Regions from separate parts of the Homo sapiens genome. Here region 2 is reported to be linked to region 1. The links are microRNA targets in miRTarBase. Many come from high-throughput screens and were not tested one by one. Region 1 holds a microRNA gene; the other region holds the end of a gene's coding sequence.

The links. Region 1 holds the annotated microRNA hsa-miR-188-3p (CUCCCACAUGCAGGGUUUGCA, at 2,087-2,107, opposite strand). A microRNA usually pairs through its seed, bases 2 to 8, with sites in the 3' UTR of a target mRNA and lowers its output. Matches are read on the target gene's strand: a 7mer-m8 pairs with bases 2 to 8, a 7mer-A1 pairs with bases 2 to 7 and ends in A, and an 8mer does both.
Region 2: the mRNA of HAS2 is a reported target of hsa-miR-188-3p. The part of its 3' UTR that is shown has no 7-base or 8-base seed match.

Annotation. Positions count from the first base shown.
Region 1 is chrX:49,998,539-50,005,662 of GRCh38, reverse strand. It overlaps MIR188 (microRNA 188), which reads right to left and starts at 2,160; the gene lies at 2,075-2,160. All of the region lies in intron 3 of CLCN5 (chloride voltage-gated channel 5), which reads right to left. It overlaps MIR532 (microRNA 532), which reads right to left and starts at 2,515; the gene lies at 2,425-2,515.
Region 2 is chr8:121,608,071-121,615,194 of GRCh38, forward strand. It overlaps HAS2 (hyaluronan synthase 2), which reads right to left. Exons shown (of 4, transcript NM_005328.3): 4 at 4,046-6,968. The coding sequence ends at 6,039. Among named protein-coding and RNA genes, the nearest start is that of HAS2, 30 kb to the right of the region's middle.

The DNA of each region.
Region 1 (7,124 bases):
TGAAGGCAAGAACTGCAATGGATTAAAAGTCCAAATATATTTAAATCTATGAGTTTATTATAATAGTTTTTTTAAAAAATCCTCTTTAGAGTAAGCTAGTGAACCAACTCATTATTCTGAGTACTGATAAATAAAGAGAACCAAACATTTATCCTATCTTGCCTATAAAGACGGCAACACTGGGTGATCAAATAGCAGATGAAGGGAAGTTTTTCTTTATAGAAGTATTCCAGCTAATAAATCAAGAGAATAATGGGATTAGAATATCATCATTTTGCAACCCCTAATGAAATAACGGCTCTAAGAATTGAGCATCGGTGGCAACTAACATCACAGAAAGATGATCATCAGTTATTTTGTGCCTCTTAATGGAAGTAGTTCTGCTCCCCCTTCCTCAAAATTAAGCCTGAATTTGATCAGGCTTCCAGATGCAACTATCAGTTTACAGGAAATACAAACAAGGAGAAGGAACATGTAAACTACATCACAGGGATGTGATCACAAAAATCCAGACTATGCAAAACTGTATAGGATGAATGGCCCACTTTCTTCCAACAAATAAATTATAAGGAAAGAAAAAATATAGATGGAAGGGAAAGATATAATTCAAAGGGACTTAAGATACATATCAACCAAATGCAATGCATGGACCTTATCTGGATCCTAATTTATGATATTTCTGAGACAAGTGGAAATGGGAACAACAGATATGTGATGATATTAAAAAATTGTTGGCAATTTTTTTTCTTTTTGAGATGAAGCCTCGCTCTTGTCACCCAGGCTGGAGCGCAGTGGCACGATCTTGGCTCACTGCAACCTCCGCCTCCCGGGTTCAAGCGATTCTCCTGCCTCAGCCTCCCGAGTAGCTGGGATTACAGGCACCTGCCACCAGGCCTGACTAATTTTTGTATTTTTAGTAGAGACGGGGTTTCACCATGTTGGCCAGGCTGGTCTTGAATTCCTAACCTCAGGTGATCTGCCTACCTTAGCCTCCCACAAAGTGCTGAGATTACAGGCATGAGCCCCTGTGCCTGGATGGTAATTATTTTTAAGTGTGATAATGGTATGATTTTTTTTTTAAAAGCGGCCTTAGATTTTAGAGATACATAGTAATTATCAGCTTTCCCTTTTTCCATTGTAACTTACTACTTCCCAGCCCTATGCTTCTGCCACAATGGCTCTTTGTTGTTCCTAGAACACAGTAGGCCTTTCCTGACTACCCTATTTGATATCGAAACTTCTCCACCACCATCTATGCTGTAACTACCCCCACCCACTCCTTGTCCCCTTTTCCTGCCTTATTATTCTCCAGAGCACTTATCAACAATTGGCACACTATCTATTACTTACTTATTTTGTTCACTACCTGCCTCCCCTCACTAGGGCAGGGATTCTTGTCTTTTGGTCACTGGTGTATCCCTGGTGCATAGGGGAGTACCCAACACACAGTAGCTGCTCGATAAATATTTGCTGAATGAATGAGTGGCTCACCAAATGAATCGGCTGCAAATCCTGGGTCTGGGGAGATAACAGAGAAAACTCACAATCTGACTCATATCTACATGAGTGTCTAAGAAGACAGATCTTCACACACCCTCTTGAGCAAACAAGTGTGCATATGGAAAGGCATGGCACAGTGAGTGGATTCTACTTTCTGAACCCAAAATGTGTGTGCATATTACATCTTTGCATATGGTTATGATATAGACACAATTTTCCTCACAAACTGGGTTTGTGAGAATTAGCTAGAAGACTCCCTTTTCATCATGCCCCATGTACAGGAGTCCTGAGAAGGTTCTCTCTCCTCCTCTAGGTGCCGCTAAGACAGAACCAGGTCAAAAGACCCCCCTTCCTTCTCTAGGCTGTGCCTATCCCTGAGTATGAGGGGCTGCACCATGTGCAAGAGAAAGCTAAGAGAAGTCTCCCTCTCCTGCAGGATCCATGTAAGACTGAGATGGGAGAAAGGACATGGCTGAGAGTCATTCTCCTTCCCACCACATGGGTGTGTGTTTTTCTTTTGGTGAAGGAGTGCGTATGTGTATATACACATGCACAAGAGAGCAAGGAAAGCTGAGGCTCGCCATCCTGCAAACCCTGCATGTGGGAGGGGTTTTCAGAAAGCTCACCCTCCACCATGCAAGGGATGTGAGAGAGGGAGCAGGGAAGGGCTTGCTCTCTTGGCACGACATATGGGTATGCTCTAGGAGGCAAGAGGCACTGGCCTGGGGGGTGCAAGTGGGCAGCAAGATAGCCACAGGAGTGCTGATGGGTAAACTAGGAGCAGTGGCCATGGAAGCAGGACAGTCATCCAGATGGGATGGCTGCTAACAGTGTACCCCACATACAGAGCACGTAAGAGAGGGTCTACCTCCCTTTGGTGTACCTGTCCATGTGCTCATGCCTATGCACTGGAGAGGGAAGAGAAGGCTCGCTCTTCTGCAAGCCTTGGGTGTGGGAGGGTAATTAAGATGCCAACGGTCCTACACTCAAGGCATGGAGGAGAGAAAGCAAGTCGGGAGGTCTGCTCTCCTGTATACTGTGTGCATGCGTATCCCAGATGCCTTGGACTTCTATGACTGTGCCCCAGACATGCTGTAATGAGAAGGTGTGCTTGTGTACATTCACATATGTACCTTCAGAAATGTTCACTATCTACAACATATTTGTTTTCCTTCCTTCTTTCTTTTCCTTTATTTTTATTCCTAACACCAGTATAGTATTTACATTTGCAGAGCACTGTTTTAAGTGCTTTTCACACATAGCTCATTTATTCTCATAAAATATCCATGAGGTGATCATTATCCCTATTTTACAGATGAAATAACACACATACGAGAACAGATGGTAAGAAAGCTTAGAATCTGGCATGCAGGTCATTAGAAAGAGGACTCAAAAAAGGAGGCTCAAGCTCTCAGCCACCAACCACTTTGTGTCCACACACACACCACACACACACACACACACACACACACACACACACAGAGAGAGAGAGAGAGAGACAGAGACAGAGACAGAGACAGAGAGACAGACAGACAGACAGACGCAAGAGAACTTGCACTTGTCAGCCCAGGGAAAAGCTGGATTAGTGTGGAAATAATAGAGGAAGTGAGAAGTATGAGAAGTGGCTGTGTGGTCAGATTAGACATGTATTTTGAAAGTAGAGCCAACAAGATTTGACAGCAGTTTGTATTTGGAGAATGGAGGGGAAAAAGTGTCAAAGATGAATCCAAAACCTTTAGCTTATTAAAATTCTCCATATCCTTGGCATATGCAATTGGGAAATGCTGTTTGCTGAGTTGGAGAACACAGAGGGAGGAGTAGGGCTTTTTGAGAGGGGGAGGAAAACCAGGACCTCAGCTTTGGATGTGTTAAAGTTTTGAGATACTTATTAGACATTCGGGGCAGATGTCCAGTACATAGTTGGACATAGGCATCTGGAATTCAGGAGAGAAGTCCAGGCTGGAAATACAAACACAGAAATCATCCACATAAAATGGTACTTAGAGTTGCAAGACAAGATGAGAACAGCTGAGGACTAATGAGAAGTTAAAAAAAAAAAAAGAAGTCTGAAGACTAAGCCCTATATCTCTTTAATACTTAGAATTCAGGAAGAGGAGGAGAAACCATCAAGAGACTGAGAAAGAGAGGCTTGTGAGGTAAGAAGACAACCTCATGAGTGTGGAATCCTGGAAAGCAGGTAGAGTCTCAAGGCAGAGGGAGTGATCAACTGTGTGTTGATCTGTCAAGTAAGATGACAACATTGCCCAGTAAATTGGGAAATGTGAAGGACACTGGGGACCTTGACCAGGGTCATTTAAGTGCTGCAGGTTACAGTTTTACATGGAGGGTTTTCAAGAGTAAATGGGACTAACATTTAAGTCTTTAATCCATCTTGAATTAATTTTTGTATAAGGTGTAAGGAAGGGATCCAAGGACAGAAAACCAAACACCACATGTTCTCACTCATAGGTGGGAATTGAACAATGAGAACACTTGGACACAGGAAGGGGAACATCACACATCGGGGCCTGTCATGGGGTGGGGGGAGGGGGGAGGGATAGCATTAGGAGATATACCTAATGTAAATGACAAGTTAACGGGTGCAGCACACCAACATGGCACATGTATGCATATGTAACAAACCTGCATGTTGTGCACATGTACCCTAGAACTTAAAGTATACATTTAAAAAAAAGAGTAAATGGGAGAAATAGAAGTAGAGATGGAGTACAATCAGCTCCTTCAAAAAAATTTTTTTTTTTTCTGTAAAGAGGAACAGAGAAATGAGTAGAAACTGGAGGAGCTTTTTGGGTAGAGAAGGTAGTGCTTTTTAATTTTTAAAATTATTTTTAGACAGGATATGTGGCAGCACATCTAGATATTGGTACAAACACTCCAGTATACAAAGAACAGTTGATGATGCAGTAAGGAGAGGGGGATCAATTGCAGGAGCACTGTCACTGAATAGGTGACAGGGGTTGAAATCTAGTATACAAGTGGAGGAACTGGTCCTGGCTACATGTGCCAGTAATTCATCTACCATAATGGGGAGGAGCTGACACTTAGGGACATGTGCAGGTAATGGAGGAGAGGTCAGAGGAACTTCAGAGGGTCCCTTCTGATGGCTTCCATTTTCTCAAGGAAGAAGAAAGCAAAGTCAGCAGCTGAGAGTGAGGAGGAAGGAAGGGAGGTGACACTGCAGATTTGAGGAAAGGAAAGAATTATGAAACAGTCATCCAAGGCAGTACTTCCCAAACATTTTCAAATAATGGGACCAAGCAGCTTAGGTGTGAGTTTTCTTCTATGGAGAATCAGTTGCTCCAGGCAAAGCATATGGATTAAGGAAGTTTATTACATGTTAATCCCAATACATGCGTCGCCTCCTTCAGTGCTTATTACAAACCTATATGGTTGGCACAATTAGTTATCTCATTTTCATGTTGTGGAAATTGAGACACAAGATAAGTCACTTGTCTAGGATCACAAAGCTCATTACAGATCACGCCAGGATTCTACCACAGGTAATCTGACTACCAAGACAGTGGGCCTAACCACTGAACCCTAAAGCTGTGTGTACCCACATGTGTATGAGAACTGAAAATGATAAGGACCCACTTTCTGGCACATCCTTGGCACACACATGTGAGATGAGGGAGGAAAAGGAAGAGAGAAAGAGCAAGGATGGAGAATAAGGAGGCTCAAGCTCCTATCATAAATGTGTGTGGGGGCATGCACAGAAAAGGGGTAATAAGGTGGCTGACACAGTGGTTCACACGCCACTGTGGCCCAGCCAGTGTGTGCATTGGGAGGTTGTAATAACCTCCCAATTGGGAGGTCAGTTTTATTTTAGGTTAAGCCATGCGTGGGGTAGGAGAGTGGCAGCAATAGAAGGCTCACAGTCCTGCGATGCTGGATGCAATGGGGCAACTCAGGTGTCTCCCTTACATGCATATCATGAGTGTATGCACATGAGAGAAAGAAAGAGAAAAGCAGGATTAGAGAGAGAGGCTGCAAGCAGGAGGCGGATGGGGAAACCCACAGTCCAACAGGTTTGGGGAAGCATATTTAAAATAAAAAGCTCACTGTAGTTCTGTGTGGTCAAGGTGGGATGGGATAGCTTGAGAGGCTTGCACCCCTGCATGGGGCAGGAGAGCTGGGGGAGTGGAGAGCAGAGACAGGGCAGATATAGGAAGAATGCTCACTGATGAATCCTAGCAAATTTTTAAAATATCATAAATTTCATACTATTTTTACAATGTAAATAACTGTCATTCAAACAATGCTCCACAACCTTTAAAACAAGTAAAAAAAGGGGCTTTTAATGTACAGACTAAGAAAGCAAATGTATTCGTTGTAGCACAATTCTCATATTCTATTCCGCAGGTATCAGCTGCTTGACAACACCAACTATAGTGAAAAGAGCCAAATATGTGTTCACACTGACACTTTTTCTTTAGTCTTTAAACTTGCTGGCCAACAGAGTATAGCTTAGAAACTGCCCACCATCCTTAATGGATCAACTGCCATTTCTGAACTTATTTTTCCCCTCAGCTAAAAGGGGCAGATTATTTTTTTTATTCCTCAACACATCTACCATACAAAGCAAACACTAACAGGCCGAAGGATTCATCTCCCTCGTGGTGTACATGTGTGTACACATGTGAAGGCACATGTGCCTGTGCCAGAGCCAGTTTTTTTAGGCCCACTATCCTTCAAATACTTCAACTCAGCAAGTTAAAAAAAAAAAAAAAAAGCAAAGTCCACTCTCCAATAATGCATGCTTGTGGGAAGAGCACTAAGAAGGCATGCTGGGTTTAAGAGGCAGGGCACAGCTCAGAAAGCTTGCACATCTGTAAACCTCATGTGTGGGAGGGAACTGAGACAGCTCACACCCCAATGTGTGAGGCATGTGAGACAAACAGGTAAGGAGTCACCTCCTCTCTCCCTCACAGACAGAGGATGTACACAGACGTAGGTCTAAGGAGGCGTGGGGTGATCAGGAGCCTCATCATCTTGTACTCCTGTGTGCATCATCTGTGTCGGGGGTGGGGAGGGTGTCCCATAATAATGCTCACTCTTGCCAACAAGGCCTGTAAGAAGGGCACTAAACAATCTCGACTCTGGATGCTGGGTGAAAAAAAGCAAGGGGGCACATAGCCTATGGCGGGGGGGTGGCACTAGAAAATTCACTCTCCTGTAAGTTGTGTATATAAGAGTGGAATTAAAAAACACACACACTACCATTCAAGGCAAATGGGAGGGTGAACACATCAGATGTCTCAGACTGTGTGTGTGTGTGTAGAAGACTCAAGCCAGCAAACCCTTTGCAGTGTCATGCATGGGTGAAGGAGAGAAATAACAAGAAGGCAAGATGGCTTGCTCTCCCACAGACTCCACAAATAGGAATGGGATCAGGAAAGCTCTCTCTCCTACAGTCAAGACATATAGACGAGTGGTGGAGTCAGCAGGTTCTTCTTTCTGGCACTCTGAGTGTGAGAGGGAAGGAGGGAGGGAGGGAAGTAGAGAAGGCACATTAAGGTTCATTTGCCTGCAAACTTAAAATGTGGGAGGGGGATTGTGAAAATCCACACTCTGACACTTTGGGCCCGAAACGTACCAAGCAG
Region 2 (7,124 bases), not on the chromosome of region 1:
ACAGAGGAGAAGGGCAAAGTGTGTTCAAGAGGGAGCAAAAAAATCTAGTTTAGTAGGACATGAAAAATAGGAGTAAAGGACTGCAAGGGAGAAAATAGATAATCATCAGTCTTGAATAATTTCTTACATATTTAATGCTTTTGTTGACAATGAGGTGAAGTTAAATCTTTGTATTCAGAATTGGGCCTTAGAATGATAATTTTAACAGAAATGCAAAGAATCCATTGGATGAAACAGAAATGGAGAATAGAAAGGTAGTCAGGAGGTATTTTCTTTTTCTTTTTTTTTTTTTTAGACAGAGTCTCACTCTGTGCCAGGCTGGAGTGCAGTGGCGTGATCTTGGCTCACTGCAACCTCTGCCTCCCTGGTTCAAGCGATTCTCCTGCCTCAGCCTCCCCAGTAGCTGGGACTACAGGCATATGCCACCATGCCCAGGTAATTTTTGTATTTTTAGTAGAGACGGGTTTTTGCCATGTTGGCCAGGCTTGTCTCGAACTCCTGAGCTCAGGTGATCTGCTCGCCTCGGCCTCCCAAAGTGTTGGTATTACAGGCGAGAGCCACTGCGCCCAGCCATCAGGAGGTATTTTCAACAGTTCAGGTAAGAGATTTAAAAAGTCTTAACAAGGATGAGAGATGAATTTGAATGACATGGCAAAGGTGGGATCAAATGACTATAATAACTAGCTGGTTGCGGGCTTCTTATACCAAAACAAAGCTGAAGAGAGTGCTTGGGTAATTGGCAAGAGGCGATGACCTGAGAATGTAAAGCAAGAGGCAGCCTTGGAAGAAATACAATGAATGTGGTCAGGTGCCTGGGAGAGAAATACCAGTTTATTACAAGCATGCTCAGGCCAAATCGTAATTATAAACACAATTGTTTCTGTGAGATCTTTGAAACCAAACATCATAAAGTGCCTTATTTTATGACAATGTTAGAACCCTGTCCAAAAATTCCATGGGTGTGTCATCTATCAAAAGTAATGTAAATATCTCATTCTAGTATTTCTCCCAGTTGTGTTATGGTCTTCTATCGTCCATCTTCAAATTTACTTGTTTTTTTTTTTTTTTTTTTTTTTGAGACAGTCTTGCTCTGTTGCCCAGGCTGGAGTGCAATGGCGTGAACTCGGCTCACTGCAACCTCCACCTCCTGGGTTCAAGCAATTCTCTGGCTTCAGCATCCTGAGTAGCTGGGACTACAGGCATGTGCCACCACGCCCGGCTAATTTTTGTATTTTTAGTAGAGACGGAGTTTCGCCGTGTTGGCCAAGCTGGTCTCGAACTCCTGACCTAAGGTGATCCGCCTGCCTCGGCCTCCCAAAGTGCTGGGATTACAGGCGTGAGCCACCATGCCCGGCCTTCAAATTTACTATCTATAGTCATGTCCCACTCTTGGTTAACTACAACTTCCACTTTAATTAAATGTTAATTCTGTTTAAAGGACAACATATTAAAAGCACACCACTATCGCTGTATTCATGTTCTTTTACCTGAAAAATCATTAATTCCCATCCAAGTTTGCACGTCTTTAAAGAATCAACCTAAATACCAGGCTATCTTAAAACCTGCCGTTATGAGGCTAATTGTACATGTTCACCTTCTTCTTTTTACATCCCATGCCACTCTGTATAAAGAGTATTATTCTATTTCACATCAAATCCCAGTGTAATTACCCTCTTACTTACAGTGTAAATATCCCTCTTACTCAATTGTAAGCTCTTTGAGTATAGACACAGTGTACACCACTTCATTTCTTGCCCGTGACAGGAACTTTTTTCTTTTTTTGAGACAGAGTCTCACTCTGTTGCCTAGTTTGGAGTGCAGTGGCATGATGTCCACTCATTGCAACCTCCACCTCCCGGGTTCAAGTGATTCTCGCGCCTCAGCCTCCAGAGTAGCTGGGATTACAGGCATAAGTCCCCATGCCCGGCTAATTTTTGCATATTTAGTAGAGACGGGGTTTCACCATGTTGGCCAGGCTGGTCTCGAACTCCTGACCTCAAGTGATCCACCCACCTCGGCCTCCCAAAGTGCTGGGATTGCAGGCGTGAGCCACAGTGCCCAGCCTATAACAGGTACTTAATAAACTTAGTTAAAACCAGATATCTGCCAACACCCATAAATTATATTAAAGTAGAAAAGTTCAATGGGAGAATACAATATTTGAATGAATAACTATCTTCGAAATGATATGCGGTTTGAAGGGAACAATATAAGATACTAGATTAGGGCAATGCTTCTCAAACTTTAATGTGTTTAAAAGTCACCTGGATGGGAATCTTATTAAACAGATTCTCCAGAGAATTTGATTCAGTAGGCCTGGGGTAAAGCTACGAACTTGCATTTCTAATAAATTCCCACATGCTGCTGATGCTGCCGGACAGTGGATGAAATACTGAGTAGCATTAGTTGAAGGGGCAAGCTTGATGTCATAATGTCTGGACCTAAATTCCACCACTACAATGTACTGGCTTTATAATATTAAGTTACCAAATTTCTTTAAACTTCACTCAGCTTCCTCGCTTAAAATGGTAATAATAATGGAACTTCTTGGGACTGACATAATAACTAATCTATAAAGCATGCTTCTGGTAGTGCCTAAAACATAGTATGTGCTCAAAAATTAGGTGTCAGTGTGAGTACTTAATGGTACAGATAAGTCCACAGATTTCTAAAGAGCAGGGGTCATTAACTATGGGCTGCAGGATATATCTGGCTTGTTGCCTGTTTTGGTAATGCTGGTGAATTAAGAATAGTTTTGTGGGGGTTTTTTTTGTTTTGTTTTGTTTTGTTTTGTTTTTGAGATAAGTTCTCATTCTTGTTGCCGAGACTGCAGTGCAGTACTGCAAACACAGCTCACTGTAGCCTCCTCGACCTCTGGGGCTAAAGCAATCCTCCCACTTCAGCCTTCTGAGTAGCTGGGACCACAGGCAACGCCCACACCTGGCTAATTAAAAAAAAAAATTGTTTGTAGAGACTGGGTCCTGCCATGTTGCCCAGGCTAGTCTCAAAATCCTGGCCTCAAGCAATCCTCCCACACTGCTGGAGTTACAGGCGTGTGTTACCATGCCCAGTCCTAAAATGTATACTTTAAGGCTCTTTACATTAAAAGACTGTCACCAAGTGACTTCATCAGTGAATTATTAAGTTTAGAACCATCAATATTTCTGGATTATCTGACAATAATGTTCAGTGGCTATAGTTTATAATGTAGCAGTACAAAAGTAATGAAGGATTCTTAGAAAACAGATAACACAAAAGAACTGGGAAATAAGATGAATTTGAGGGATAAGAGGTAAAATGAGATAATTACTATCAAAGTTCCTCTAATCAGAAAATGCTGTTAGATGTCCCAACCCACTTTTTAAAAAGATGATATTTATTGTCTTTTTTTTCCTGATTATAAAAACATATTTATAGTATTTGGAAAATACAAAAACATATACAGAATATAAATCAGTCATTCCCAGTATTAGAGATAATCATGTTTAAACATCTTCACTTTTATAAAATTGGGATGTTACTGTACAAAATGGTTATTTTTTTAATGTGACATTTCTCCAAAATCCACGTGTTCTCTGAGAACATTGTGTTCAATAGCTAATGATGTCCCATTTTTTAGAAATGCCATGATTTATTTAATTATTGCCCTCATCATTTGATTTTAGGTTAAGGTTTTATTATTTCTGAATAATGCTGAAATAAACAAGCTTGCTTATCATATTTCTGCATATCTTTGATTTTTTTTCCTGCTATAAGTTACTATAATTTAAAAAATTGTCTAAATTTGTGCTGCTTTCAAGGGAAGCAGAAGAAAAAGATTATAGACAAGGGTAATGATAATTAAGCAGTCTCTCTCCTCTCTCTGTGGTTTTCCAGATTTTCAAACCACACCAGTTTTAGGGATTTCTACCTAATAATAAGTAACATTAAATGACATATTCTTTTTTACCAACCATCATTTTTTTTAAAACCCCCCCTTCCTAAATTCATACCATTATAATCAGGAAAACAAAGTTCCCCCTTCCCTTAGAAAAAAAGGCAATAATCTTATCAAAAATATTTTATTTACAAAAAATTAATTATACTATACATCCTATACTGGAAATACATTGAATAATTGCTAAAATAAATACAGGCAATTAATTCAACTTTTTATAAGAATGAGAGAATTTGACATTTGAATGTTATCAAAGCTTAACTTAGAACATAAATAGTTAAAAAGGCAAACTCAAGTTTTCATCTCATTTATTGGCATGGTGTGTTTTGTTTTCCACAAGCTCTCCAATCAGTGAGAGTCTTGAGTCTCAGATGTACCTTTTTGTACTCTGAAGGTAGGATGTGCAGCTTTTTCTTAGGCAGGATAGATGTAACATAGATGACTGCATAAAAAAGAGGCAGAAAGGCAGGAAGCCCATTTTTTTTTTAACACTTCTCCATGTGTCTCTGCCTCACCATAATGCTGTTTATTCAATTATTCATATATTCCGATTGTGTTTTCAACACAGGTCTACACAGCACCAGCTACAAGGCAAGGTCAATCGTGTAAAAAATAAAACTGGATAATGGAGGCCTTGCAGTAACTAAATTAGCCAAGTTCAGAGTATGTGGTTCAACAATTTTTATATGTGCCAATCATTGATATACTTATTAAACCTTGATGTCACTTCTACTGTGTAGACATTTTTATACAGGTCCAGAACAGGAAATAGGAAGTGATGATCTGTGTAATTCAGAAAAACAAAATTCCTCATTTGAAAGTAAAAGAGGATAGATACTTGGTGATTCTATCTGCCAATTTTGAATTTATATGTTTTATAATTTATCCAACTCACCCGTGTAAACATTATACTAACATGTAAAGTGAACTGGCAAGTTGAAAAAAAAAAAAAAGACAGGCAAAACATGTTCAATGTGTAGGTAGGACCCAGTAAATTCAGGCCACAGAACAAAACCTTTGATAAACTGCATTGTATGTGTCCAAAATTATACAGATAATTTCTCCACTTTCCACTTGACTTGTTCTGGGAAAACACTGCCAGAATCTCCAAAGATTATTCATCTTTGATACCCATGTTTTGTCCAGTGCTGGATGCCTACTGTTTTCTTTCAAAGACTATCATTCCCTTTTTTTTAAATCTTAATGAAAAAATTGCACTACCTTTGGCCTTGATTTTCAACGATTTTTTTTTTAGGTACACACGAAAGTGTGTATTTTTACTTCCAAAGTGTGATAGGTATATTGGCCTTTTCTAAAAGAAATAAAAACAAAAAGTTAAAATATTGAAAGTTTAAATACTTCTTTCACAGAAATAAACTATTCAATTTTAAAAGGTAGAGAGAGAGAAACATTTTATTCTTTCTATCATGAACATCAGTCAACCAAGCTTCACATTTTGGGCAGGATTTTTTAAGTATAAATTTTTTAAGAACTTATTTTATTTTAAAAAAGGAAGAACAGGTTTATTTTGGCAGAAAAGTAAAATAGAGAATATGCAAAATTTGTCTTTAAGATTGGCATACAAAATTTAAAAACACAGTACAATTATATCAAAATACAGCACAGCCAACGGCCTTTAAAACTTCCTTTGGCATTTCATTTGGTAAAGTTAAAAAGAAAATCCTTCCTAAAAAAAAAAAATTATCATCTATCAAAACAGTCCATAAGTTAGGTTGTATAGGTTGAAAGAACTTTTCCTTGAGTTTCCAAAATCCTTTTCTTCCATGATAACCCACATAAAGCATGGCTAGTGAGGTATATAGGGCAAAACACTTTCAGGCGGATGCACAGTAAGGAAAAAGTGCATAAACAAAGAATTCATCCCATTTTCATAGAAATAACAGGTTAAATCTGAGTTTCTTCTTGTTGATGTATTGTTTTACTTTGGCAGAATGAAAATAAACCCATATAAATGTCTTTGTTCAAGTCCCAGCAGCAGTGATATGTCTCCTTTGGTGGCATTATCTGATGCCACAATACTGTACAGCCCCTAGAGGAACTAAGGTGTTGTGTGTGACTGCAAACGTCAAAACATGGAAGATCATACATCAAGCACCATGTCATATTGTTGTCCCTTCTTCCGCCTGCCACACTTATTGATGAGAACTACATACAGCGTCAAAAGCATGACCCAATAGCATGCATAGAGCAACGTTCCAACAATTAGAACTGTCTGTTTGGATTCTGAAAATGGCCTTTTAGACTCCTTATAAATGGTGAAAATCACACCACCCAGGAGGATTGTAAACCAAACTGATACTGGAATGAGTCCTATGAAATTAACAACAATGGTTTTCCTTCCTGATGTGCCCCACCCAGCTTTGTTTATTGTTGCAATTGCAAACATCTTGGCGGGAAGTAAACTCGACATGTATAACACTGAGTAGAGAGACATGAAGACCATGACGATATTTCCTCTAAGGCAGCTGGCAAAAGATGATTTTATGAGACCTACTAGCTGGACAGTTAACAAGAAGAGGAGAATGTTCCAAATTTTACCCCGGTAGAAGAGCTGGATTACTGTGGCAATGAGAAAGAAAGGAAAGAATCCAGTGATAATCGCTTCGTAGGTCATCCACAAGTGATGTTTGTGAAACCACATTGCATTGTACAGCCATTCTCGGAAGTAGGACTTGCTCCAACGGGTCTGCTGGTTTAGCCATCTGAGATATTCTATAGGTGTTTCAGTAAGGCACTTAGATCGAGCTGTGTATTTTGTTGCATAGCCCAGGCTCAGCACCCGGTTCGTGAGATGCCTGTCATCACCAAAGCTACATTGGTTGCCCATAAATTCTTGATTGTACCAATCTTCCACAAACTCATGCAACAAGGAGTTTCTGTACATTCCCAGAGGTCCACTAATGCACTGAACACACCCAAAATAAGACTGACAGGCCCTTTCTATATTAAAAGCCATCCAATATCTTACACTGCTGAGGAATGAGATCCAGGAATCGTACTTGTTTAAAATCTGCAAGAAGAAAAACATAAGTAATAGGTAAGCTTTAGCTAAAAATTCCAGCAAAACCTGTTCCATCCTGAGGTTACTACCTGGAGTAATATTTGTTATTTTATCCTCCCATTTTGGCTTCGTTCCTCTTTTTGGCGTGGTTATTTTATGTTTTCT